Regions from separate parts of the Homo sapiens genome. Here region 1 is linked to region 2. Evidence: fine-mapped expression QTL. A gene starts in region 2. The other region holds a variant in brackets. All regions are shown on one strand. Distances are from middle to middle.

What was found.
Region 1: its variant is fine-mapped to the expression of BAAT in prefrontal cortex (BrainSeq, PIP 0.95).

The regions. Positions count from the first base shown.
Region 1 is chr9:101,339,400-101,356,052 of GRCh38, reverse strand. No RefSeq gene overlaps it. Among named protein-coding and RNA genes, the nearest start is that of BAAT, 37 kb to the left of the region's middle. RefSeq lists an enhancer at 1,232-1,526. The variant G/C (reference allele first, on the strand shown) is at 7,217.
Region 2 is chr9:101,380,679-101,393,898 of GRCh38, reverse strand. BAAT (bile acid-CoA:amino acid N-acyltransferase) reads left to right here and starts at 8,893. Exons shown (of 4, transcript NM_001701.4): 1 at 8,893-9,044. MRPL50 (mitochondrial ribosomal protein L50) reads left to right here. Exons shown (of 2, transcript NM_019051.3): 2 at 3,049-6,266. The coding sequence ends at 3,433.

The DNA of each region.
Region 1 (16,653 bases), 40 kb after region 2:
GACAGAAATAGGCACAGAGAGATAGGGTGTGTTAATAACAAAACCTAAAAATGGGAAAGCAGCTTTGGAACTGCATAATAAATAAAGGATGGAAAGAGTTTACAGGTCCACTGCCATGAAAGGAGCCTTAGGGGCAACTCAGGTGAGGGTTCAGAAGAAGGTGAGGTTGAAGAAGCTGTAGAAATAGCCTCCATCTTCTTAGAGATTACCTAAGTGGTTGTGATCAAAATGTTGATAATACAGAAATACAGATGGTAAAGGCCATTCTGATGAAGTCTCAGACAAAAATGAAGGACACGTTATTGGCAACTGAGGACTAGATGATCTCTGTTACAAAGGGGCAAAAGAACTTGGCCAAATCATGTTCATGTTCTAGAAGAAATCTCTAAGCAAAATGTTGAGGATTTTGACTACTTATAATAAAATGTGGAAGCAGAACTTAAAGATTTGGAAAATTCTCAGCCTGGTCATATTGTATAGAGTGGAAAGCTGTGTTCAAGAGAGAACACCAAGGGTGTGGCTAAGTAACCGTTTGATAAGGAGATTAGTACGGTGAGGCAGAAATCAGGTGCTATTTATCAAGATAATGAAAGAATGACACCAAAGGCCTTTCAGTGTTTATTTGTGCTGTCCTTCCTATCATAGGCACAGACTGCCAAGGCTGGGGGCAACATATCTGTATCAAAAGAGGAAGCTTGGAAACCGGTAGGACCTTGACGCCAGGTGGCCTCAAATCTCCACTTCCTGCATTCTGCTGCAATGCTCCTCACCTGCCCCAGGTATGGTTCACGCAGGCCCATGTGCAGTTTGGGCCACTCTCTGGAAGGCAATATAGTAAATCTTGGTGGTGTCTGTGCAGTGCTATCTCTACCAAAGTGCAGAGTGCACAAGTCATGAGGGCATGCCTGCCTCCACTTAGATTTCAAAGGATGCCCCAGAAAGCCTCAGAGCCCAGACAGAGAACTATCACAGGAGCAGGACCACCACAGACAGCCCCCACCCCAGTATGGCAATGCCCAGTGAAACCGTGGGAGCAGAGCCACCCCCAAGACCCCAGACTGGTAGAGCCACCAGTGTGCAATTCCAGCCTGGGAGAGCCATAGGCATGTGACTCCAATATGTGAGAAATGCTATATGGGTTTTGCCCAGCAAAGTCATGGCCAGGACTACCCCCCACCCCCCAAGTGTTTAGAAGGTAAAATGTCAAGTCGAAGATTATTCTTGAGCCTTAATATTTGCCCTGTTGGGTTTTACAGTTAGTCAGGATTTATTATCTTTTTCTTCCTTCCTACTTCTACCTTTTGGAAAGGAAATGTCTGCCCTGTGCCTATCCCACCATTGTATTTTCAAAGCATGTAACTTGTTTGATTTCAGAGGCTCACAGCTGAAGGGGAATTTGCCTCAGGATGAGTCACACCTTTGAGTCTCAGTCATATTTGATTTAAATGAGACTTTGGACCTCAGACTTTTGAATTGGTGCTGGAACAAGTTAAGGCCTGGGGAGCTACTGGGATGGAATGAATACATTCTGCATGTGAGAAGAACATACATTTCGGACGGCCAGAAGCAGAACTCTATGGTCTGAATTTTGGTGTTTCCCCCAATTTATATGTTGAAACCTAACCCCCAAAGTAATGGTATTAAGAAGTGGGACCTTTTGGGAAGTGATTAAATCACAGAGGCTCTGCTCTCGTGAATGGGATCAGCCTTAAAAAGGTTGAAGGCAGCGGTTTTGCTCCTTCTGCCATGTGAGGATGCAGCAACAAGGTGCCATCTGTGGAGCAGAGAGCAAACCCTCATCAGACACTAAACCGGCCAGTGCCTTGATCTTGAATTTCTCAGTATTCAGAACTGTGAGAAATAAATTTCTATTACTTATAAATTACTGAATCTATGTTATTTCCTTATAAATAAAGCAGCCAAGGACAGTTACGTGATCCTAGATCACCCATTGCCATAATGTTTTCAGGTGAGACTTACTGGCCTTCAACTCTCAGCTGCCTTCCAAGCCCATCACTATGAGAATATGGAAACTTCCAGAAACCTTTCACAGAACAGGAGAGCAAAAAGAGACTTGCGTGTGCTATCTTTGAATCTCTATTTGTCTAAACACACAATGTCCCATTTTACTGTGTTTTCCAGAACTCCAAACAGGAAATAGAACAAAAGGTTCCTCCGGGATTTTCAGTTTTTCATAATCCATTCCCACCTTTGGTCAAGGCCTAGACCTTTCTAGGCAGGGTTGCCTTCTTCCCTAGGACAATAAGTCCCAGGTCTTTGCCTTAATGTAATAAAGCTTCAGAAGAACAATAAAATGATTGCTGAGAATTGTAAATGCATTGAGAGATATTATTAAATATTATTCTTGCCTTACAAGTAATAGGTCAGGGAGTAGCCAGATATGGCAAAAATTAAAAAGATGCTACTATAGTGAATTCTTATAATTTTATATTGCCTTTATATGCATGTATACTCAAATGTATCCACTTTGAGTATAAGTTGAACTTTCTCATCCCAGAAGCAGGACTTAGTCACCCTTGACAACAATTTCTAGTTCTCTGTCTCTTTCAACTTCCTCACTGTGGCTGATCCAGATATCTGCTTATACAAATGCCTTTTTGTGACCACCTCCTTAGGGGACAGCTAGATACAACTTACTTGACTTGCCCACTGACCCCCACACCTCATACGAACTGTGCAGATATGCTCAGCAACCACCTCTCAGTTGCCTGTGACCTCTTGGAACTATTGCCTGCTTGTTCTAAACCCATCAATTAAAACTCCCCTCGGGAAACCTGCTTGGGTAACACCCTGAACCCCAATAAAGGCTTTGGACCAAAGGTCCCTCTCTCTCTCTTGCTCCCCACATGCTGGTTGAGTGCATATCCTGGAAAGCTCTCCCCTTCCCGTTGGTGCTCTTTCCCTCTGTTCTCTGATCTGTAAGTAATACGCTCTTCTGTTATTTCGTGTGTTTTGCTAAGTTGCCTCTTCTGTGTCTCACCTGACCAACACACCCAAATCTACCTTCTACCTTCTTTCTCCATCAGGGCTGTCCTAGAGAGGGGCTGTCTTGGTAGGAATAAACTGGACACAGGTCAGACAAGAGCCCCAAAGGCATCTCCCAGTATAAACAAGTTTTCTGTGAGAGGAACACCCTGTCGTGGGTTGGACACCCAGGCATTAGGCTGTCTGCTGATACAGAAGTGTCCCATGAAAGACACACTATAAACATTCATGCCCAAATCCCTGGAGCCCTGGCAGGGTAGGGCAAGATTTTTTACCCATGTTCCTGAGAGAGACCTCAAGACCAAATTAGAGGAAAATACAATAGCTACCTAACGAGTAACTTTTTTGAATATTGTTTAGAGCCAGCCTTCTCATTACATAGGTAAGTAACAGAGCCTTGAATTTTTTTTTTTTTTTGCAATTAATTTAATGGCAGGACTGGGATTAGAATTCGGGGATTTATCCCTATATTTTCTCCATTCCATTATATTGAGATTTTCTCCCATAGTCTATTAAACTCTGTTCTCTGGAAATTTGAAATAAATTTTGGTCATACACCGTCATTGTTTTTATCTTAGGACAGCTAGAAACACTTCAATTTCTATATTTACCCTTCTTATGGAGAACATTTTTTAGGTTCCATTAATGACTAGGAACATTCTTGGATCTATCACAAAAAGAGTCATAGTTTCCATTGATTGTGCTGTAGCTATGTGGAAACTTCATGGAATCCCTAAGTATACCTGGTGACTTTAAACCATCAGAATAGTCTTCATTGTGGCCAGGCATAGTGGCTCATGCCTGTAATCCCAGCACTTTGGGAGACCAAGGCGGGCGGATCACGAGGTCAGCAGATCGAGACCATCCTGGCCAACACGGTGAAACCACGTCTTTATTAAAAATACAAAAAATTAGCTGGGCATGGTAGCAGGTGCCTGTAGTCCCAGCTACTCAGGAGGCTGAGGCAGAAGAATGGTGTGAACCCCAGAGGCAGAGCTTGCCGTGAACTGAGGTGGCGCCACTGCACTCCAGCCTGGGTGACAGAGCGAGACTCCACCTCAAAAAAAAAAAAAAAAAAAAAAAAAAAAAAGAATAGGCTTCATTGCAAAATCATTTATTTTTGCTACCATTTCCCCTCTCCTTATCCATGACTTAAGCAATCAGATGTTCCTAAATTTTAACCTTTTTGTCAGTAATTCTAGATTTTTTAAAAAGATACTTTAAAAGATTATAATGGGCACAATAATATACTTCCAAGATTGCAATCTATAAAGTAAAATTTCCCTGATAAGAGATGTTACATGACACATGGTATAAATTAATTTGATACTAAAATTTATGTTAGGAAAAAGAAGACCTTTTTGCTAAGCATGGCAGGTAGTCAGGAGCAGTTCAGTGTGGTAGGTTATAACAAGAGTCCTGAAATACTTCCTGGGATTCAAAAATGAAAAATAATATTCTAGGATAACTGGAAGATTAATTTTAGTTGTGAATAATCATTGATAAGTGTTATTGAAGACCAATCTACATTGTGACCAAATGAGGGTAAAACATAGAGCTTACTTATGCCTTAGCCAGAAATCATTTTTTCCTTCACTATACAATTGAAATCTCTCATTTAAAGTAGTATTTTCATACTGACATATTTAAAACTAGCCAGTTATTTCCTCCATGAGCATGCTATTCATAACATTTCTTAGGTTTGTCAATCAGCCATTGGCAAATGAGGTAAGATAGGGACAATGTTTCATTATTTCATTCTAATTAAAACTGTTGGCTCTAAACCCCCTAGTCACAGCTACTGCATCCAAGTAAATAAAAAAGATGATGCATTAGTGGATACAGGCTTGAGTTAAAAATAATTGTCATTTCAAAAACTTTCCCCTTTCTATAGATTTGGGCACTAGTCTCAAAGTACATTCCAAAGAGAAAATTCATAAATTTCCCAGTCTCCATTAATCCCCTCCCAACTCAACCTCTAAAATCCCTCAAGTAATAATCACTGGGTTTGGAGGCCAGAATCCAGCAGATAAGGACTGTTTTCTAAGTCCAAACTAATCTGTCATTAGTGATGTAAATACTGATCAATGTTCAAAAACTAGCATATGATTTCTGAGGCCTCACTTTGTTGTTTGGCTTGATTATATAACTTTCTTCCTTCCAAACTCATCTTCCCAGTACTCCAGCCATTTGAATGTTTTGAATTCATTCAGTGCATATTTATTGAGCACCCTCAATGAGCCAGGAATAGTTCCAGGTGATTGGATACTTTAAGGAATAAAACAGTAAAAAAAAAATGCCTGCCCTCATGAAGCTTTTATTATATTGCAGTCCCACAAAGGGGATATATCTATAAATAAACTTGTCCTTCTTTCTAGAAGGCACTTCTATACTTCTTTATCCAGTGAGTCCTTACCCAGGTGTCAAGCTCCACTCATAGGTACCACTTCCAGGAATCTTTCCTGCTATGTGTTAGGTGCCCCTTCTGAGTATTCCTAGGATTTTATTTTTGGAAGTGCACTTACCACATTCCATTAGAATTGCCTGTTTACTTTTTCTATCTTTTCAGCTACACCAGGGGTCAGCAAACTTTTGCTATAAAGGGGTAGAAAGTAAATATTTTAGGATCATAGGCTGTATTAGTCAGGGTTTTCCAAAGAAACTGAAACTATTTATGCAGGCTGATCCCTAATCTGAAAATCTGAAATCTGAAATCTGAAATGCTCCAAAATATATGGTCTCTATGGCAATCATCGACTGCCATTGTAAAGTGAAAGGAGCTGTAAATAGCACATAAACAAAAACTTTATCTATTAAAACAGATAGAGACTGGATTTTGTCTGCAGACTGTAGTTTGCCAACCCCTGAACTAGTCTACGAATTTCTTGAGCAGGGACAGGGTCCTGGTTAATTCAAACATCCTTGGACATAATGGGAACTTAATGAATTATTGTTGAATGAATATGGAACTGATACCATAATAGCTATGTGATTGCCATTATGGATATGGATGGTGGCAAATTCACAGTCATCTTGGTTACTATCAGGAACTATATCTCACAATAGTTAAGGATGGCTGCTAATGATTACAAGTATGCTTGATTATGTCATCTGGATGGCCATATGTGTTTTTCTTCAGTTTGCATGTGCATATATTTTAGTTAAGCAAATATGCACATATATAGCTGTGTCATATTTTAAGTTTTCCTATAATTTTTCCAAATGGAATAATACAAATACACCAAATAAAACAGAGGTTTATTTAAAATAATTTGTCAATGTTAGGGTATCCAGGCACTCTAAATTCTTCTTCAATTGTTTGCAAGGAAAATCAAGTAACAGTCATTAAGCTCTAAAATATGTCAACTACTTTATACCTTAACCTCTATTTTACAGTTCCTGATCCTTCTGGAGAATGTGGAAAATATTTTCTCCTGAAAACACCCCTGACAGTTATTTGTAGGGTATCCTTAGGGATGTCTCATGTGTTAATCAATAAGTTCTATCTGCTTCCCTGTGACGCTGACCATTCATTTTTTCTTTTTCTAGCTCTGCTTGCTCCAGGCCTTCTTCAGTGATATGACCAAAGTTGAGGAATGTCCTCTCACTTTTGGTGTGTGTGTGTGTGGCTCATACCTACTACTGACAACTGCGAATACCTCCCTTGTATATGGTGAACACCTTACGTCCAGTGCTTTGCCAGTGTCCTAAATTCTCATTGGCTATATCCCTTGATGGTCTATGGAGTACCATGTTCCCTGTTCTGGGGAGCAGGGTGGAGAAGGCCTGGATGTACTTCTTAGCTTGTACTTCGCTTTGCCACCTGGGTCATCATGACTTGCCTACCTTTTTCTGTGTTTCTCATAGATTCTTAGTAAAAACAACACTTTCTATTTCTGCTGCACCTCTCCTCCACTTTACCTCCTATGTTTGTATCTGGTTCTGGAAATTAGTCATGAATATGGGGTCCTTGCTATCTCATCAATGTACCTCTCATCCAGTATGAGAACTGTGTACCAAAATACCTCCCTCTTCTTCTAGACATCCCAATATGTCTTTGAGTTCCAAGATCAACCGCTTTTTTCCAAGTCTTATGTTTCACTTTTATTCCATTTTATCATATTACTCCCATTTTACAAATTAGAAGGCTGAAGCACATGGAAAGTTAAGTAATTTGTTTGATGTAAGTCGCACAGAGTAATGAAGTAAG[G/C]GATCTAATCTAAATCTGAGTCCAGAGACCAGTGATCTTCCAACTATAGCTTACTGGCTGCAAGAGATACAAAAACAAAAAGGCAAGGCCCCTCCCTTAAGGAATTCACAGCCTAAAGCAGAGTCTACAATCTGTAAGTTAGCTCATTTATACATTTTGACAATGGCCTTTGGCTGATGGGATTAACAATGGGACAATGAAAATTTCAGTAGTTCCAGTTCTGGGTAGCATTTTTGTCTGGGTAAGCTTTTGCTGTCCTTTGGAAAAGTGGTTTCCAGATTAGGATACACATTAGAAATCCCTGTTAAAAATACATATGCAAGAACCTTATCTCAGACCTATCAAGTCAGAACTTTCAGGTGCAGGACCCAGGAATCTTTACTTAACAGGCTCCTCAGGTGAGTCTTATGCCACCAGCTCACATTGCTCTTAAAATTGATATTTGGGACTTGCTCTCTTAGACACTGTTCCAGAGGAAACTGTCCAGAGACCACTGACTTAGAGGAGGAGACACAGAAGGAACTAAAGCGAAGGAGATTAGAACCAGGAGTTGAGTGAGTCAAGAGAAAAGGCTTAGAAACCTGAGCTATGTGATGAAATATTAGACTCCATTGTGAACACCTGAACTAAAAAGCAGACTAGAGAGACTGGGCTCTGCCCAGACCCTTCGGCAGCATCTGCTGGTAGCCCTGTCGCTGGGGACTTAAAAACAGGAGTAGTGGATGGTTTCTGTGCAGACAATTTCAACTTTCAATAGGCTGGGTTGTTTTAAATGATATAAATTAGCAAGCAACAGGCAAGCATCCAGTGCTTCTAAGTTGGCTTCTAAGTTCAGTGAGCCATTCTGCTTTAGTCTGCCTCCTGCAGCTGAACTCACGGTGAGTATCTGGGGAGTCAGGGATGTCATTGCTTTGTAGAGAGGGTCTGCTTTCTGATACATCTGCCTGCAGGGCATCTGGAAAGGCTGCTTTCATCTTGCTGTGTTTGTTTCTGTCATCCCAGAGGAAAACACAGTTCTCTGAGGGACGAGTAATCATCATCTCAGGTGGTTCATTGCTCTGAAATACAGATTTTTGTCAGATGCATCAACCTAACTAAGAGATTGCTGGATGACTATTTTGGAGGCAACATGCACAGCTGGGCTTCCAGAGTAGTAAGGGTCCAGCTAATAAGAATTTTATAGAGATTGTTTCTTGACTTTCAAAACACTTTTCCTGCGATTTAGTGCACGGGAGTAGGGGGAGGTAAGCTGGGGGCGGTATTTCTACCTGGACTGAGAGATGAAGTGCCAGTGATGACAAAAGCAACAGGCTCCTAAAGAAAACAAGAGTTTTGTTTCTTGATTAGTAATTTTAATCTGCATTGGTGACCTTCTGTTCTTTTATTCTTTGTTTTCTGCCCCTCTTTTTGGCGCTCTACCAGTTTTTGACTTCTCTTTCTTCTAATAGGCCACTGTCTCCCAGTGATGTAGACTTGATCCCTTTTACTGTGGTCAGGGACCTCCAGACTCCATAACATTGCTTTCATGTTCAGCCTCCAATAAGGCTGTCTCCATATTGCTAAGGGCTCCCTCCCCAACCACTTCAAGGCGAATCCTGTGGAAGGCAGCAAGGTTAATGCTGCTTGTTCTCCACTGCTTTGTATCCTTTGTTTCCTGAATACCCTGCAGTGTGAGGAGTCCTGGCTTCCAGTGCAAAAAAGTGGGGAAGCTGGGAAAATATATTCAATCAGATCTTGAAGCATCTCCCATCTTCAGAAGTAGAATATAAACAGTCAAGTTGGCTTCTATTCTTTCTTATTCATCGTCTCTCAGAAATTTTACTCAATTTTTTTCTTTTATGCATATCATTTATTCTTTCATGTATTCATCAAATATTTATTAAGCAGCCACTTGCTTAGTAAATATGTGTCATGCCCTATTCTAAGAACTGAAGAACACAGTGTTGAACAGGGTAGAATTTCTGTCCTTGAGGAATTTACAATCTGGAATAGTGCTATCAAATAGAATATTCTCCAATGGCAGAAATGTTCCGTATCTACATTGTTCAATATAGTAGCCACTAGTTACATGTGATTATTGAGCAATTAAATTGTGGTTAGTGTGGCTGAGGAACTAGATTTTTGTTTTATTTATTTTTAATTAATTACATTTAATTAGCTATGTATGGCTAGTGACTACTGTATTTGTATAGAGCAGAAAATGGATAGTCAGATAAAGAAGCAGACTTTCACAATATCATATGTTAAGTTTGTAATGAGATAGTTGTTTAGACTAGTAAATAGATCAGGGTTAAAGGCTTTGATTGAATCAGATTATGAAAGGTGCCAAACACAAAGGACCGTCCAAGTCTAACACTTACAGATTCAGCTGGTAAAGAAATAATGAACTAATTTTAGATTCAGCCAGATTATTACTTATATACATAGTGAAGAAAAGAGAAGCTAAAGATGTCAGCCCTATGAGTCCTCATCCCACACACCAAAAGGATGGCACTGAAACAAAAGGGGTCAGATGGCTTCAGCAAGAGTTGTGATACACCCTATTGCTGGCCAGTCAATTCCAGACTGCAGCTAAATGGCTATAGAGCTGCAGTTCTGCCCTACGGAAGCATAGGGGTTAAGTTGGAAGTCTCATGTTCCTCTGGAACCTGGGAGTTATATCAGAAAACCGCCTCATGGCAGCATCCCACAAGATAGAGGCAGATGAGAAAACAACCTCGCGAAGCCTTCTCTGAAGATTTCCTCCCTTGCCATGTTCCTAGGAGGATCACAGGGCATTCCACCCAGATTTAGGTCATATGGCAGTCCAAGCTTTGCCTGTGCATCCCATGTAGACACATGTAGAGTCTCTAGGGCTCCATGGTAGAGCCACTCCCTTGGAAATGGTCTTAAGTGCTATGCCAAAGGATTTAGATTCTACCCTTAAATGAATCCGGGAGCTACTGGAAGTTTAAAGTAGAAGAGTAATTTGACTTTTGAGTTTTGCAGAGATCAGTCTGACAATATTGTAGAGACTAAAAAAAAAAAACTGTAAAAAGGAAGAAAGATTTGGGAAAAAGGACGAGAGTTTGTGGGAATGAAGAGTGTACAGTTAAAATCATTTATGAACACATGGTATGTGAAGGGCTCTGTATACAGTAAAGGTGACAAATAAATCAAACAGAATTCTGCCCTCAAGAAAATTTCAGATTAATAGGAGAGAGAAAACACAACATAAATGATTATAAGGCTCAATATATTAAGTGCTTTGAGAGGCATGCTGGAGGGCCCAGAGGAAGGAGAGACCTCTTCAGATGGGTGTCCCTTATACAGTAGGTAGTTTATTGATGATTATGACAATGAAGTGTTGGACAGGAGAAGCCTTAAGGATCTTATAAATTAACACTCTGGAATCTATGAGGAGCTAGCTCTGAGAAGCAATAAGCCTTATCAACTAACAAGGGTATGAATCCATGTATATGGATTAGTTGGGATCCAACTGAGAATAAGGTAATACAAATGTAATAGAAAAGTAGGAAAAAGTCATATAGATTAAGCATGGGGAGAGATGGCAAGGAGAAGGTTTGAAGGCTTTGGATTTTGAGGCCAGCCAGTGTCAACTTGTTCTTTTTTTATTTTTTTTATGAGACAGCGTCTTGCTCTGTCACCCAGGCTGGAGTGTAGTGGCGTGATCTTGGCTCACTGCAACCTCCACCTCCCGGGTTCAAGTGATTCTTCTGCCTCAGCCTCCTGAGTAGCTGGGACTACAGGTGCATGCCACCACACCCGGCTAATTTTTGTATTTTTAGAAGAGATGAGGTTTCACCATATTGTCCAGGCTGGTCTCGAACTCCAGACCTCGTGATTTGCCTGCCTCGGCCTCTAAAAGTGCTGGGATTACAGGCATGAGCCACCGCGCCCGGCTCAACTCATTCTTTATCATTGGACATATTAATAGATGGGTTCTCACTTCCCACTTCTCATCCCCTCATTTTGGCATTTCCACTTTACTTTGTCATCCTTCTTCTACCTAAAGGAGGCCAGTTGATATCCATTGCCTTAAAAAAAGGTAACACATCAGAAAGAGGGAAAAAATCTTCTTTTGGTTTTTGAGTTATAAAAATCCTAATGGCTGATATGCACTCCAGAAGTCATAAATGAGTATGTTTTGTTTGGTTCATATCTTGTTTTGTTGCCCACTGAATACCTTTAGACTGGGCTAAAGACTAGGTTGTCTTTAGTTCTTTACAGTTCTGTATCTCATTTATTCCTGGCCCTTATCTATAAATTTATATTACCTGCTTGGGTCCCCATGGGTATCTGAATTTGGAGCCTCTGGCATACATTGTACAGCAGGTTCAGAAGAATGCACAATAATATATAAGCTTCCCGAGTCTTTCAGCATTATAGAAGTCACAGAAAACTTACTTGGATTCCAAGTAATTTCTATTTTGAGTCTTTGTTCCTCCAGGTGGCAGAGATATAATCTTAGAACAAATACTTAAAATGGAATTTACTTGGAATCTAGAAAAATAGAAAAAAATACATTTGTGCACGCATGAGTTTGTGGGCTATAATTCTACTATTTCACTATCTGTCCTGCCAAAGTATGCAACAGGGTGTATACTTAACTAAAAGGTTCAGAGTCAGGAAAAATGAAGATGAAATTAAAAATAAAGTATTGAGAAAGAAAAAAAGGAGGGGTAGGTTAAGAGAAGAGTGAGTTTTCATATTTCTACTCTCATTTGGGGAAAATAGTTAAGGTTTATGTGTTGGGTCACCTGGTATGAGTTAAGATTCTTGCTTCACCATTGACTACATAGGCAAACTTGGCTAAATCATTTAACTCACTGAGCTCTATTTCCTAATTTGTAATGTAAGCATAGTAATATGTTTTTATTCCTACAGGGTTGTCATTCCCACAGGGAATAATGACCTTGAAAGAGCCTTGAAAAGTGAAAAAGCTTTACTATGGGAATTAATATTATCCAGTAGCTAGCTTTTAGTAAATGCTTAATAATTGCTGTTAGAGAAAAATAAATTAAGGGGAGAATAGAATTGCCCAGTCTCAAGTATGTCTTTATCAGCAACGTGAGAAAAGACTGATACAGACTGTATGTCTCGTGGCTGTTTAATGTGCATGCTCGGAGTCCTAAAGACAGTCACTGTCCTAACATACAATTCAACAAGTGATTCAAGGACAGAAACATGATGGAATCATTGTGTTTCTTACAGACTGAAAATCAGGTGTCTACAAACAAATACCCCAGCTTTAAGGAGAATTGATAGTAGTGGGCTGAGAATAAAAAAGTACCCACACTCATGGGAAAAGACTGATTTTTCTGTAGCTAAACTAATAAATCCTACAACTGCTCTCCTTAGTTTACAGTGTGCTGATGCTATCAATTCACCAGAAAGGAATCTATACACGAAAATGTATAATATGTTTTTTCAGTTTAGATAACAAGATCATTTTTTCCGGGTTAGATATATTTCTGTTGGTAAAGGTTAAGTGGGATTATATTGAAAGATCTCTTTTTGGGACTAGGGGCCTCAAAATTTGGAGATTTCTGTACCTTGACATTAGTAGCCTTCACTAATATAGAGTAGCAGAGACAACACAGAGAGGTGGTGAGTGATGTGGGATACCAGACCTTCATATAACAGGGTGAGATTGATTCCATCACATAGTCTAGGGGCATAGCCAGCCTGGTTTTAGGAAGGAGTTTGATGCTGGGATTTTCTCTGTTGGTAGACTCTCATATATGACCAAAAGGAAACCCCAGACTGTTGGGATATCCTAGAGGAATTTCTCACTCAGTAGAACTTTTTAGAAAAAGTAAAAGTCATATGCTTTCCCAAAGTTTGAATCATAGTCTGTTGGCCAGTAAAAAAAAAGCATGCAACTAAGTCAGGAAACTTGGCACCTTTTCTCTCTTGACCATGATATGACCTTACAGAAGTCAATCATCCCGAGTTTGTGAAATGCAAAGTTGAACTAGTTGACTCTTTGATTGCAAGTAATAGTTATCAACTCAAGCTAATGTAAACAAAGGGATTCTATTATAAGGATGCCAGAGTGTCTCAAAGAACTCAAGTACAGTTGACCTTCAGGAGTGGTTGGAACCAGGAATTTGAAATCTAGTAAGATTACTTTCTCTGCCTTTCATCTTTATATCTACTTTATTCATTCATAACTTCTCTCTCCCCCTCTCTCCTTCCCCCTCTCCTGGTCCCCATCTCCCCCTCCCCCTCCCCCTGCCCCTCCCCATCTCCCCCTCCTCCTCCCCATCTCTCCCTCCCATTCCCCTTCCCCCTCCCCCTCCCACTCTCCCCCCCATCTCCCCCTCCCCCTCTCCCTGTCCCCGTCTCCCCCGTTCCCCCCCTCTCCCCGTCCCCTTCCTCTTCCCCCTCCCCTTCCCTCTTCCCCTCCCCATCTCTCCCTCCCCCTCCCCTTCCCCCCCTTCCCCTCCTCTCCCTCTCCCCCTCCCCTCAAACTCCCACATCTTTTCCCTAAGACTGATTTTCTGGGATTATCTGGATACAGCTTCAGCTTCTGAATTTTATGGATTCAATTACATGTGAGTCCAGGGCCAGGGTAAGGAAAGAGAGGTTCAAGGGTGCAAAATATCAGGAAGACCTTAGAGGCTTGGTCTCTCAGTGACATGAAAGTAAACTTTGGTCCTCTAGGTGCCTCTCTTGCCTCACCTTAGTCTTGACCCTGAGAGAGTGACTATTGATCTCTGGGTCTCAATTCTAAGCTAACAAGGTGAAAACATCATTGCCACATCTTGAATCTGAAATTCAGCTCTAATCCAATCAGCAATGGCACCAGGGCTGATGCCACAAGGTACATACATAGCTCTTGAGTGATCATAGCTCTGGGCTTTAGGAGACTATTCTCAGATAAAAAGGAACTACAAGTTGGGAAGAAAGCCTCAAATCTTCAATCACACATGTACTATATAATATTTATTTCCATTACATTTTTGGTGCTAATTTATTCTGCCCCTTATAAACCTTATAACTCCTAAACATGTACATTGTATAATTTATTATATCAATGTTGAAAGGATCCCTAAAGTTTTCATACACAGTTACTACCCTTGAGAGGCTCATTTGGGAGGATAAAACTAGATACAGGATGCATGCTGAAGAGTGGTTATAGTAAGCAATTAAAATAATTAACTATAAAAATAAAAGCTGTATTGGGCTAATGCATTGTACAGAAGTTTAGAGAAGGAGAATAATAGCAAGGAGAGGAAGAATCAATGATGTCTTCTTAAAGATATCTTTTTGGGGGACAAAGAGGACAGCAGATACAGAGGCTTACAGGAAGGAATCATATCAGAAAATATTAATACCTAGAGAACATTGAAATGTTGCAGGGGACACCAGACACTCTTTTTAATATTACATGTCCCATCTCCCTAACATGAATGAAAGACTCATGAAGTTGGAAATGATGCCACATTCCGTCAAGAACTTTCCCAATATTGAGAAAATATATTCATAATCATTCTATTTATTCAAAATTAATGTATTGACCATGAATTTAAGTGTGTGTAAAATGGCCAGTAGTGCTGTTTGTTAATGAGTTTATCAGGTGGGAGTGTGTACTTTGCAGAAAATCACTTTTTAAAAGTAAATGCAAAAAGACGTTTTCCCCTTGATCCTCTTCTACCTCTGATGACTAATCTCTTATCTACAGTAGAGAATTGGGCATTGCTGTAGTTGGGATGTTTGACCCCTCCAAATCTCACGTTGAATTTGATCCCTACTCTTGGAGGTGAGGCCTCTTGGGAGGTATTTGGGTCATGGGGGCAAATCTCTCCTGAATGTTTTGTTGAGGTCCTTGTGGTAATGAGTGCATTCTCCCACTCTTAGTTCCTCTGAGAGCTGGTTGTTAGCAAGAGCCTGGCATCTTCCTGCCCTCTTTCTCTTGCTTCCTCTCCTCTCATGTGATGGCTGTACATGACGGCTCCCCTTCTCCTTCTACCATGAGTGGAAGCCGCCTGAAGCCCACATCAAGAGCAGATGCTGGAGCCATGCTTCTTGTACAGCCTGCAGAATCATAAGCCCCAAGTAAACCTCTTTTCTTTATAAATTACCCAGCCTCAAGTATTCCCTGATAGCATACACAACAAACTAAGACAGGCATCAATTGCTCTTTTCCTCCACCTGCACTACTGGAGCCTATTTATTTCCACAGAAGTTTTTCTGCACCCAAATACAAACCCCAAAGCCTTTATTTTGAATTATCCCCTAAATAAAATTAAGGACCCCTTGGAGAGTCAAGCTTTTAGGGGGACACCTATTACTGCTATTTCTGTGAAGATATTGTTGAAAAATGGTTCAGATGTATATGCCAAAGTCTCATGTGAGAAATATCTTTTAGAGCTAAAGATCTTTTTGGGAAGGGCCTCACTTTTTCCTTTCCCCTAAGGAACTGATAATTTTTTCTTTGAGAATAGTTAGAACAACATAACTGACCAGGCAGCCCTTTTTCCTTTGGCTATCAGTAGATTGGCACCAAACTTACAACCCACAAAATGCCCTTCTTTTCATGTTCCAGGTTTTCTGTGATAAATACTTGTAATCCTAGTCCATATTTTCCCAAATCTTATTTTATTTAATTTTACTCTTTAACTGTTTTACTCTTTGTCAGTAAACAGATTCAAATCTTTTGTGGAATGGGGTACGGAGGAAAAAAGAAAGGAAGGAAGGGAGGGAGGGAAGAAGACCCCATTTTCCTTATAATGGAGCAGGGTACAAAGTGGCCAATCAAATGTATATGGTAGTCTCTTTACTACAAACAACATTGGCATTCATAACTCTATTAGAAAAGCATAATAGCAAAGACAAGAGCATGAAGTTTTATTTTCCCTTAAAAAGAACAAACAATGGAAAATCTGCAAAGAGCTAGAGGTCTAACAATGGCAGGTAGGGATGACAGACTAAAAGGAAAATAACAACGACAATAACAGAGAGTGTGTTTATGTAAGTCTGTGCCCATAGCCATACCCAACAGGTGTGGGGGCTGAAAAGCAGTGTTGTTTCAGAGCCCTTTGTCATGTATTATCCCCCTTGGCTCCTAATACCTTACAAAGATAGGTCATACGGGTATTATTTCAGCTGAAGAATTAAACCTTAATGTACTGAAAACCACGAAACTAAGATTTACTAGTGTTATAATGGATAAGACAGAAGGCTGTGGTGTCAGATATAGCTTGAATTCCCACTTCTACTATCAACTACTTGTGAGACTTGGAGCATGCCATATAACCCGTTTCCTCATCTGTAAAATGAGAACAATGAGTACTTTCTGCATGTCTCTCTCTCCCTCCTCCAAAAGTTCTGCACATTTTTCACTAAGTTCCCAGAAGTTTAATTTGGTCAGACCTAATATAAACCTTGCCTTGACCTTTTCTTGGAATTTAAATCTCCAACTTAAAGTC
Region 2 (13,220 bases):
TTTTGATAAAGATTACATTGACAGTATATCGCTTTGGGTAGCATAAGCATTTCAACAACATCAATTCTCCCAATCCATGAACGTGGGATATCTCCATTTTTTGTGTGTCCCCTTCAATTTTTTTCATCAGTGTTTTATAGTTTTTATTGTAGAGACCTTTTACTTCTTTGTTGAAGTTTATTCCTAGATTTTTTGTGTGTGTGGCTATTGTTAATGGAATTGATTTCTTGATTTCTTTTTCAGATTGTTTACTATTGGCATATGGAAATGCTACTGATTTTGTATGTTGATTTTTGTATTCTGAAACTTTACTGAATTTATAATTTCTAAGAGTTTTTTTGGTGGATATTTAGGTTTTTCTAAATACAAGATCATATATCAACAAGATATATAAGATCATATATCTTACGTATGATACATAAGATCATATATCTTACGTATGATACGTAAGATCATATATCAAATAAGAACAATTTGACTTCTTTTCAATTTTGATGTACTTTATTTCTTTCTCTTGTCTAATTGCTGTGGCTAGGACTTCAAGTTCTGTGTTGAATACAAGTGATGAAAGTGAGCATCCTTGTCTTGTTCAAGATCTTAGAGGAAAGGCTTTGAGTTTTTTCCCATTCAATGATGCTAGCTTGTTTTGTGTCCTTGTTTGGTGGGTTTGTCATGCATGACCTTTATTATGTTGAGGTATGTTCCTTCAGTATCCAGTTTATTGAGAGTTTTTATCATGAAAGGATGTTGAAATGTATGAAATGCTTTTTCAGCATCTATTGAAATGATCACATGATTCTTGTTCTTGATTCTATCAATGTGATGTATCGAATTTGTTGATTTGCATATGTTGAACCATTCTTGCATTCTGGGATGAATCCCACTTGATCATGGTGAATGATCATTTTAATGTGTGGTTTAATTCTGCTTGCTAATGTTTTGTTGAGGGTTTTTGCATCTGTGCTCATCAGGAATATTGAACTGTAGTTTTCCTTTTTTATTTTGTCTTTGTCTGATTTTGGTATCGGGGTAATGCTGGTCTTGTAGAATGTGTTTTCCTTTTTTATTTTGTCTTTGTCTGGTTTTGGCCTCAGGGTAATGCTGGCCTTGTAGAGTGTGTTTGGAAGTATTCTCTCCTCTTCAGTGTTTTGGAATAGCTGTGGTAGAATTCGTATTGATTGGCATTAGTTCTTCTTTAAATGCTTGCTAGAGTTCAGTAGTGAAGCCATCAGGTCTTAAGCTTTTCTTTGATGGGAGACTTTTATTACAGCCTCTTTCTCATTATTTCTGTTTGGGTTTTCTTTTTCTTCGTGATTCAATCCTGGTAAGTTGTCCGTGTCTAGGAATTAATCCATCTCTTCTAGGTTTTCCAATCTATTGACTTATAGTTGCTTGTAACAATCTCTAATTAGCCTTTAAATTTTTGTGATATCAGTGTAATATCTCCTTTTTTGCCTCTGATTTTATGTATTTGTGTCTTCTCTGTTTTTTTTAGTCTAGCTAAAGGTTTGTTGATTTTAACTTTTCAATAAACCAACTTTTTAATTCATTGATCTTTTTATTGCTTTTTTAGTCTATTTTATTTATTTCTACACTGATCTTATTTCTTTCCTTCTACTAATTTTGGATTTGGTTTGTCTTTTTCTAATTTAAGGTACATCTTTAGATTGTTTATGTGAAGTTTTTCTTTTTTCATGTAGATGTTTATTACTATAAGCTTCCCTCTTACTACTGCTTCTGCTGTATCGCATAGGTTTTGATGTGTTGTGTTTTCATTTTTATTGCTTCAAGACGTTTTAAAATTTCCTTCCTAATTTCATCATTGACTCATTGGTCATTTGGGAGCATGTTATTTTTTATGTAGTTGTATAGTTTCTAGAGTTCTTGTTATTGATTTCTAGTTATATTTCATTGTCGTTAGAAAAGTCCTTGATATGATTTTGAGTTTTATGAATTTGTTAAAACTTGTTTTGTGTTCTATGATACAGTCTACCCTGGAGAATGTACCATGTACTCATGAGAAGAATATGTATTCTGCAGCAGTTGGGTGAAATGTTCTCTAAGTGTCAAGTCCATTTGGTGTAGAATGTAATTCCAGTCTTTCTTTGTTGATTTTGTCTGGATGATCTGTCTGTTATTGAGAGTGGGTGTTGAAATCCACAACCATTAATGTATTGTAGTCTATCTCTTCCTTTAGATCTATTAATATTTGTGTTATGTGTTTAGGTTCTCCAATATTGGTTGCATATATATTTATAATTGTTATATGCTTTTGCTGAATTGACCTCATTATGATTATGTAATGACCTTCTTTATCTCTTATAGTTTTTGACTTGAAATTTATTTTATCTGATATAAGTATAGCTACTCCTGTTCTTTTTGGTTTCTGTTTGCATGGAATATCTTTTTCCATCTCTTCACTTTCTGTGAAGTAGAATGTAAGTAAAATTAAAAGTCAGGTAGGATGTGATACACTCTGAGAGCAGTATAAACTGCTGAAGAGATCACATGAAATCACAATTATATTTGATTCTGGAAATTAGGTAAAGCATCTTGGAAGAGAACAATTTTATCCTAAGACTTACAGAATAAGCAAGATTTCCATAGGTGAAGATAAAAGACAGGCATTTTAAGATATGACTTGAGCCAACACATTGTGTCAGGAAAGTGGGAGTGTGCTTGGGACACAGGATATAGAGTATCACATGGAGTATATGTAGGTAATCAGTGAAAGGTAAGACCAGAAAGGTAGATTGGGGTGGGATCTTGGAGGATGGGGAATCCCAGACAATGATTTACCTTACTTCTTCACCCATTCTTAGGAATTCTTACAGTATGTAAAATATGTACTTAGTTTCTTTCTGTCTCTCCCAACTCAGTTCAACCATGAACGTTCTAAGGGCAGGGGCCTACCATATTCTTTCCTACTCTCAGTAGTCCCCAGTGGTAATCAGCATGCCATTGTTGATTTTGATTGGTAGGCAAGATTTGGTCTGGTGTTTGTCAACTTCATTAATGGATTTGTCTGTTTGTTTTTGATCATTCCAGAAAAGAGAAAGAGCCAGTGGTTGTTGAGACAGTAGAAGAGAAAAAGGAACCTATCCTAGTGTGTCCACCTTTACGAAGCCGAGCATACACACCACCTGAAGATCTCCAGAGTCGTTTGGAATCTTACGTTAAAGAAGTTTTTGGTTCATCTCTTCCTAGTAATTGGCAAGACATCTCCCTGGAAGATAGTCGTCTAAAGTTCAATCTTCTGGCTCATTTAGCTGATGACTTGGGTCATGTAGTCCCTAACTCCAGACTCCACCAGATGTGCAGGGTTAGAGATGTTCTTGATTTCTATAATGTCCCTATTCAAGATAGATCTAAATTTGATGAACTCAGTGCCAGTAATCTGCCCCCCAATTTGAAAATCACTTGGAGTTACTAAGCAATTCGGAAGAGAAACACATTGAAATCACTGTCTTTCCCTGAGCAAGGGGGCTGCTCATTAGATCTTTTGATACTTTACCATGTGAAATACTACCAGAACTGTTCTCTAAACCCACTTTTTCTGTAGAGGAATGTATCATCTTTTTTTTTCTCATATTACAAATGGACAAATAACGGACTTTCTATTTTCATATTTGCTGAAACCATTTTTTAAATGAAATTAGGTCATTATTTATGAAAAGTTTTGAGAGGGCACTGTCAACTTGGGTTTAAGACAGGAGGACATTGCAAGTTCACACCTTTCATAAGCATAAAGTAGTTGCAAGAAAGTATTTTCATCCTGTTAGGATTCATATCTAAGATAGAGTTATGCATTGCACATACACAAATAAACTTTTATTAGATAGATACCTATAAAAGAAACATAAAAGTATGTTGTGTATTACTGACAGTTCTAGATTAATTTCTTTTAGAATTAAAGTAGATTTGTTAAAGTGTATTGTGTGTTGTAAATTTTTTAAGTGAAATTTGCTTGCGCTCTGCCTTGCCATTTCTTTCCAGTAAGTATAATTTTGAAAAAATTAGAATATATGCCAAATATTGAGTGCTGTGACTCTTCCTCATAAGAGATGTGCCAGATTCTATGTCTAATTGCATATTCTCTTCAGAGGAGATGATGCTTATTTTAAACCTTTTTCTCTATAACTTTTAAAAAGTGGTGCTGAGTATTCACTAGAGTGGCAAGTCTTTGTGCTTTAATGCACTCAATTTGTGGAAATTACTTAAATAGCAGGTTATCAGATGGTTCTGAATGACAAAGGTGTTAAATTTGGGATTTTTTTTTCAAGCTTTAGATATGGCTGGAGAGTAATGAGACAGAAGGAATGTCTTATATTGTTCTGACTGCTGACAATTCCTAAAGAAAAGTGATAGAAGGGTTTTTAACAAAATAAGTTGCATTTATTCTCTTTCCCAGGGTTACTCCTTTGAAGAGGGCAAAATTCAGTTGGGAATATAAATTCTGGAATCTTCATGAAGAAAATTAGTTAACAGTATAGACATGCCCTACAAATATCATCCACAGGCACTTCATTCAAGAACTTCAGGTGTCAGAGTGCCTGGAGCTCTGGAGCTTAGACATTAGAGTTGATTCCTTGGGGATTGGTTCCAGGACACCTACTTGGATACCAAAGTCCACAGATGCCCAAGCCCCTTTTATAAAATGATGTAGTATTTGCATATTATGTATGCACATCCTCCCATATACTTTAAATCATCTTTAGATTACTTATACTGAATAGAATGTAAATAGTATTTACAATTGTGAATACAATGTATTTAGTTATGTAAATATGTAAATTTTAAAGTTATGTAAATATGTAGCTATGTAAATAGCTATAAAATAATATTTACAATTGTGAATAGTATGTAAATAGTTGTGAACATAACTATTGTGAATAATATGTTATATGTTATAGTTGTGAATGTAAATAGTATTCACAATTGTGAATACAATGTAAATAGCTTTCACAATTGTGAATACAATGTAAGTAGCTATGTAAATAGTGAATACAATGTAAATAGCTATGTAAATAGTTGTTATGCTGATTAGGGAATAATGAGAAGGAAAAAAAGTATACATATTCAGTACAGATGCAGTCATCTTTTTTTCCCCTCGAACATTTTTGATCCACAATTGGTTGAATCCACAGATGGGGAACACACAGTCTTGGTAAATTTAACCAACAAGGAGGGTAAACGCATCCCAACAGGGAAGGTAAACTGCACATCCATCAGTACCTCTAGAGGGCATCACTGGTTTATAGCTCAATACAGTGACTATATCAGAATAATGGCCTTTAGTTTTCCTGAAAGATTAAATTAGGCTTGCTGTTGTTGAATGAGATAATCAAACATATGATGTAATTTTAAAGGGTTTACATACAGAAGGCCTGCTGTATGTCCTGCTTCTGCTGTGTAAAAGATTCAGCATGGAATCATTGGAATTTTATGTACAGGATTTCATTATCTCATTTTCTATACAATTTTTCCTTCTGATCCAGAGACACGGAAAAACAAAGGGCAAGATGGAAATAAGGGATGAGAAGGTCTATGTGGAAAAACAGTTACAACTGGAGTGGTAACTGCAAAAACCAAGCAGCTTCATGTGATCGTTAGGACAGAAGAAATTTCTCCTTTGTAGCCTAGAGCAATATTCTCAAAATTTAATGCGCATGTTAATCATTTGGGGATCTTTTATTCATTTTTTCATGTGGGGATCTTTTAAAAATGCAAATTCTGATTTGGTAAGTCTGGAGTAGGTCCTGAGCTTCTGCATGCTTCAAAAGCTGATTATGTTTTGAGAACATGGATCTAGATGCTGGTATTGAGGTGGGAGACAAGTACTGCCACCTGAAACAACAGTCTTGGTAAATTTAGCCGACGAGGGTAAACACATCCTAACAGGGAAGGTAAACTGTACGTCCATCAGTACCACTAGAGGGCATCACTGGTTTATAGTTCAATACAGTGAATATATCAGAATAATGGCCTTTAGTTTTCCTGAAAGATTAAATTAGGCTTGCTAACTTGTTTAATGAGATAATCAGACATATGATGTAATTTTAAAGGGTTTACATTTTTAAAAATTTAATGATTGCTACATAAAAAGGGTATCAGTTAACTAATTTTACTTAGATGGAACTTCTGTAAGCTTAGTAGGTATGCTTAAATAAAGCCTGCTAATAAAATAGAGATTCAGACTCAATAGAATGGTTTTACATATGTAATATATGTTTTAAACTGCATAAAATAAACTCCTCCCTCCTTTCTTAACGTGTCATTTTTCTGATTACAAAAGTAGCACGTTCTTTTTAGAAAATTGGGAAGGAAAAAAGCAAAAACAAGAATGAAAAAACAAAACTATCTTGCCGCTCATAATTACTTAACATTTTGGTATATTTCCAAATGAAAACAATTATTTTCCTGTATTTTACAATTACTATGGCATCATGCTCCCCTTCACATTATAAGCATTTCCCCATGTTTTTAAAGACAAGAATAACAAATTTGATTAATAGCATATTATTGTATAATTAGATGTCATGCAATTATTTAACCAATATTCAACTGGATATTTAAATTCTTCCCAGTGTTTTGCTTTTCTGTTCTTTTTAATCCTGCTTTTCTAGTTCTTAGAGAATTGGTCTGCCATAGATCTTTCTACTCAGAAGTAGAAGATACTGTACTGTAAATTTCTTGACCCTAAACCTAAGAATGAACAATTTGGTCCTACTTCTTTGATTCATAATCCCATTAGCATGTATTCTGTGAATCCTAAAACACAAAGTGACAAGGACTTTGAAATTTTCACTAGGTTGTTACACAGTGCAAAAATCCTAAAGCTTTTACTTGAAAAGTTTCCAAATTTAAAAATAGTCTGTAACCTCTGATCCTATAGAATTCCAAAGTTAATCTCAGCTGTACAGTAACAGACTGGAGCAATCATCAAAGTTTTGCTTTCCATCATGAAATACCAAATTCAAACTATGTAACACTGATGTAACAATAATCATATACTGTCCATATTCAAATTTCACCAATGTCCTAGTAATGACCTTTATAGCAATTTCACTTCCAATCCAGGATCCAATCCTGGTTTATTGAGTTGGTCGTTAATTATTGTTTCTTGGTCTCATTTATTCTTCAATAAATTTTTTCAAGTAATTGATTTCATGTAAGTTACCAAATTAATTAGCATAAAATTGTTCATAATATTCCCTAATTAATGTCAGTTGGATCTATAATAATAGGCCCACTTTCATTTTGAGCTATTTGTTATTTGTGTCCTATCTTGTTTTTATTTAATCAATCTAGGTTGTGGCTTATCAATTTTTTAGCTTTGGCTTCATTTTATAATTTTAAAAATTATATTATTCTTCCTTTATCATTCAGTTTGAAATATTTCCTAATTTCCAGTGTGATTTCTTTTTGACTCATGACATAAATATGTTTGATTTTCAAATATTTGGGAGTTTTCTAGATGGCTTAATGTTATTAATTTCTAATTTCATTGAGATATATGATTTCAGTATTTTTACATGTATCGAGATTTTATGGCCTAACTTATGGCCTATCTTGTTGAACATGCCGTGTACATTTGAAGTTGTTGAGGCGATTAGGGTAAGGTCATTATAGTGTTCAAATCTATGCCTTTACTGATTTTTTTCAAGTTTTCTACCAATTGTTAAAAGGGATTTAAACACCTTCACTCATGGTTATGGAATTGTTATTTTTCCTATTTCTCCTTTTAATTCTGTCAATTTTTGCCACATAAATCTTGAAATCCATTATTCGGATTTATGGTTTTTATGATCTTGTCATATAGATATATGATATATATATATTTTATAATCTTAGTCATTACTACTTTAGGTTTCTTATGCTTATTGTTGCATAGTATGTGTTGCGGGAAGTCAGGGACCCCAAATGGAGGGACTGGCTGGAGCCGCGGCAGAGGAACATGAATTGTGAAGATTTCATTTTAATATGGACATGTATCAGTTCCCAAAACTAATACTTTTATAATTTCTTACACCTGTCTTTACTGCAGTCTCTGAACATAAACTGTGAAGATTTCATGGACATTTATCACTTCCCAAATAATACTCTTATAATTTCTTACGCCTGTCTTATTTTAATCTCTTAATCCTCATATCTTGGTAAGCTGAGGATGTACGTCACGTCAGGACCACTGTAATTGTATCTGACTGTACAAATTGATTGCAAAACGTGTGTTTGAACAATATGAAATCAGTGCACTTTGAAAAAGAAAGAATAACCGTGATTTTAGGGAACAAGGGAAGACAACCACAAGGTCTGACTGCCTGTGGGGTCAGGCAGAATAGAGCCATATTTTTCTTCTTGCAGAGAGCTTATAAACAGACGTGTAAGTAGGAGAGATATCGCTAAATTCTTCTTGTAGCAAGGAATATTAAATATTAAGACCCTAGGAAAAGAATTGCATTCCCAGGGGGAGGTCTATAAACGGCCACTCTGGGAGTGTCTGTCTTACGCAGTTGAGATAAGGACTGAAATACACCCTGGTCTCCTGCGGTACCCTCAGGCTTATTAGGATGGGGAAAAAATCCTGCTGTGGTAAATCTGAGGTCAGACCGGTTTTCTGCTCTTGAACCCTGTTTTCTGTTGTTTAAGATGTTTATCAAGACAATACATGCACAGTGGAACATAGACCCTCATCAGTAATTCTAAGTTTGCCCTTTGCCTTGTGATCTTTGCATTGCCCTTTGCCTTGTGATCTTTATTGGCCTCAGAAGCATGTGATCTTGTTCTCCCTTTTGCCCTTTGAAGCATGTGATCTTTGTGACCTACTCCCTGTTCATACACCCCCTCCCCTTTTGAAATCCTTAATAAAAACTTGCTGGTTTTGTGGCTCGGGGCCTCACGGTCCTGCTGATATGTGACATCACCCCCGGAGGCCCAGCTGTAAATTCCTCTCTTTGTACTCTTTCTCTTTATTTCTCAGACCAGCCGACACTTAGGGAAAATAGAACCTACGCTGAAATTTTGGGGGCAGGTTCTCTTGCTAGGTATGTATTTTTTTCATTTACTTACTTCCATTCTTTTAATGTAATTTTTCACCACAATCCAGACTCTCAGTAATCCTTTCCTTGCTTTTGTTTAAAGATTTACTCCAAAAATGTGGCCTATAGTTTTAGTTCAGCAAATACAAATTTGAAAGATTTATTTATGTGTATTTATGACTAGTTTCTAACGACATTATGTTTATAAGATTCATCCAGGTTATTGCATGTAGTTGTAATTCATTTATTTTTATTCTCTAGAAGAAGAATTGCTGGGTCAAAAGTTATTCATATTGTCACATTTATTAGACAATGTCCAATTGCTTTCCAAAGTGGTGGTACCAATTTATATTCCCTTAGTAGGGCTTGAGTCTGAGTGATTCACTTCCTAACCAACTCTTATTTTTGGAATTTTTAATTGTTGCCAACCTTTTAGGTATGAAATACACACCATGATTTTAATTTGCATTTCTTTGATAATGAGATTAAGCCTTTTCCCATAAGCTTATGATTGTGTCCTATTGTCTGTTAAGTACCTGTTTAAGACTTTTTCTCATATTCACCTGAGATTTTTAGACATTACTTTTTTAGGAATATTTTATGTATCCCAGTTAATAATTCTTAATCAGTTGTATCTGTAGCATAAGTCTTGCAAGGTAGTAGCTTAATAGTTTTCAAGTTTTTTATGGAGTATTTGGCTGATCAGACTTCCTTAAAATTAAGTTGAATTTAAGTTTCCTTTAAGTTTGCACTTTTTAAATGCTCTATCACCTCAAAAAAGATCCAGTACTTTTATGGAGATAGTCCTTTTATTGTCATGTAAAATCCTACTAACACTCCGTTCTGTAGCTATTTCAAGAAACCATGTGAATTAGTTGAGGAGGATTAGTAGGAGATTTGGTCCTCCCCAAATTCTGAAAGTGGGGCTTGAGTATTTTATTACTCATTACTGTGATCACATTTGTAGTTTTCATCTTTTGTTGTCTCAGGAAAGAAACCATTTGCAAATGCAGAGCCCTCCAGAAGTTACCTTGAGTATTTTATTGCAGAAGAAAAATATGCCCTAATGGTGCCAATAGGGGTCAAACAACTTCTATAAAGAAAATTATTAAAATAATGTGAGTAAAATGTAGTGGCAATCCCTAAGAGGGACGGATTTAGAGAGAACAGAAAATGAAGAGGGAAAATAGTGATACATTTATTGGGTTCAATAACTGTTAAAAATTAATAGGAAACTAGAGCAAGAGGTATGTGGTGACCTAGCACTTAAGTTAGCTCTGTTATACTTCCAAAGGCATATTTGAGGTTTTGGCCTTCTGGGCAAGTTTTGGTAGGGTGTCTGTCATTTTCCCTCTACTGCTGGAAAAGAAGGCTCAAGAGGAAGAATCCAGGTACTTTGTATTTTAATCAGGACTATTTATTTGGGCCGATTGGAAATAAGTTAAAATCTCTGCTCTTGAATTAAATCAGAGTTTATTTACCTCAGTGTTTGGAATTTTAGCAGTTCATGAGGACAAATAGTCTTTTTGTTCATTTCATAATCTCAGCTGTAGAGTTGCCCAGAGTGCTCAGATAAGTGTGTCTTTTCATTTTGATTTGCTTAGAAAGGATGTCAGTAGGGACTTGCTATTATGATGATATTGAGCTGAAATTTATATTTCTGAGGAAAATGAAAGGCTATCAGAAGTCATTTGTTAAAATTTCTTTATTCTGTCTTCCCCATCCCCATCAATATTTCTCCCTCTTTTAAAAGACTATTGCCTAGAATTTTATAGAATAAGCCCTCCTATTCTGGGAAACTGTACTGTGGTCCTATTTATATTTTGTTTGAAGGGTAATTTTCTTTTAATGTAAGACTAATGCCATGTTAGAATTAGATTCTGTGAAAATATTTCTTGAAGCTTTGAATATATGTTATACCTATTTATGCAATTCAGGAATGCTTTCTGGTAGTGAAATGTAATGTTAAAAAATACCAAAAAAAGCAAGTATAAGTTTGAGCTAAAGTTAATGACTTTCTAATTGACTTATTTCTGTTTGGGCACGCTGGTTGATGCATGTGATATTTGTATAGAAATAAATTGAATGGATAATATTGTTAGGGGTGGTGAATATCTGAGTTACTGGTGGCAAATCTGTATGGGTCTGCAGCAATCTCATTTCTTGCCTCCTCGAAAGAAAGAATTCAACTGAGGGGCATAAGGCAGTAAAAGAGACCAAGGCAAGTTTCAGAGCAGGAGCAGAAGTTTATTAAAAAGCTTTAGAACAGGAAAGAAAGGAAAACACACTTGGGAGAGACCCAAGCAGGCATCTTGGAGGTCAAGTGCCTCGTTCATCCTTGAACCTAGGATTTTATATGCTGGCCTACTTCTGGCATCTTGCACCCCTTTCCCTTCATCCTTCCCTTAAGGGTTATGGGGAGCCACCCACATGCATGGTGCCCTGCTTGTGCTTGGGATGTGGGCATGCACAGTGTGTTTACTGGAGTTTTATGCATGCTTATCTGAGGCTTTCTTTCAAATTCTGGTGGAATGCCCCTGGAAGGTCATACTCTGCCATTTTGACTCTTAATGTGCATGTTTGAGCTCATTCGCCCAGTTCCTGAAAGCTGCCAATTATCAATTTCAGGTGTTTTTATCAGTTGAGAAACTGCCTCTCCCTGGTGCTGGCTGTGACCAATTGTTATTTTAGAGAAGCAGAGTGACCATCACCTGATAGTCACCTGACATTCTGGTGGGTGGGGGCAACCCTCTCCTGCCCCACTCATGCATGACTAGCTACCTACTGTAACAATATGTAGAAGAAATACTATACCTTAAGCTTATTTAGAGTAGGAACTGCATCTTATCTGTCAGTGACTATGACATGTAGACTCTTGATAAATTCTTTTTGAAGTACTAATCAATTTGACTAAGAGTTGGAAATGTAGATTCCATTTCTGACTCTCATGTATTTCTGTATGATCTTAAGTACTCAATTTCTTGATTACAAGAAAACAAATGAAATACGGTACTTGGAAGCTATAGTATCACTTATTTTTAAGCTTCTCAGGAAACATATTCAATGTTTACTCACCACTGAATTATCATTCTCAGGACTTCTCTCTCTGTAGGCTCATTCTTGTCAGCATGTATTTATGTCTGTGTCTGTCTCATCTCTCATCTATATATACACATATATGCAACACAAACACTGTTGCATATATTTTCTTTTACTTTCAATCTGTCTTTTTTTGACAATGTGTTTCTGAAAAATAACCACTTGCTTTTTCAATTAGTTTGACAATCTGTCTTCTTTTTTATTTTTATGTATGTATTTATTTTAGAGATAGGATTTCAGCTCTTTCACCCAAGGTGGAGTCAGCTCTTTCACCCAGTGGCATGATCACAGCTCACTGCATCCTTGACCTCTTGGGCTCAAGCAATTCTTCTGCCTCAGCCTCTCAAGCAGCTGGGACTACAAGTTTGCCCCACCACACCCAGCTAATTTTTACTTTTTTTTTGTAGAGATGGGATCTCACTATGTTGCCCAGGCTGGTCTCAACCTCCTGGGATCAACCGGTCCTCATACCTCAGCCTCCCAAAGTGCTAGGATTACAGGCATGAGTCACCACGCCTGGCCTGTGTCTTCTAATTGGAGTGTTTGATCTGTTTGTATTTAACGTAATTATTGATATGTGTGGGTTTAAACTCCCATTTCCATTCATCCCATTTATTATTTGCTCCTTTATTCCTCCTTTCCTCTTGTGGCAGATTGCATTTCCCAAAAATGTATACACAAATACACATACAAATACACACACACAGCCAGGTGCGGTGGCTCATGCCTGTAATCCCAGCACTTTGGGAGGCTGAGGCAGGCGGATCATTTGAGGTCAGGAGTTTGAGACCAGCCTGACCAACATGCTGAAACCCCATCTCTACTAAAAAAACACAAAAAAATTGGCCAGGCATGGTGGTGGGTGCCTGTAATCCCAGCTACTCGGGAGGCTGAGGCAGGAGAATCACTTGAACTGGGAAGTGGAGATTGCAGTGAGCCAAGATTGCACCACTGCACTCCAGCCTGGGCGACAGAGCAAGACTCCATCTTAAAAAATAAAAAGCAAATACACATACACGTTTCATCCACTTAAAAAAATTTTACAATGTGATTGACATATCTCCTACTGTTAATAGGTATCAA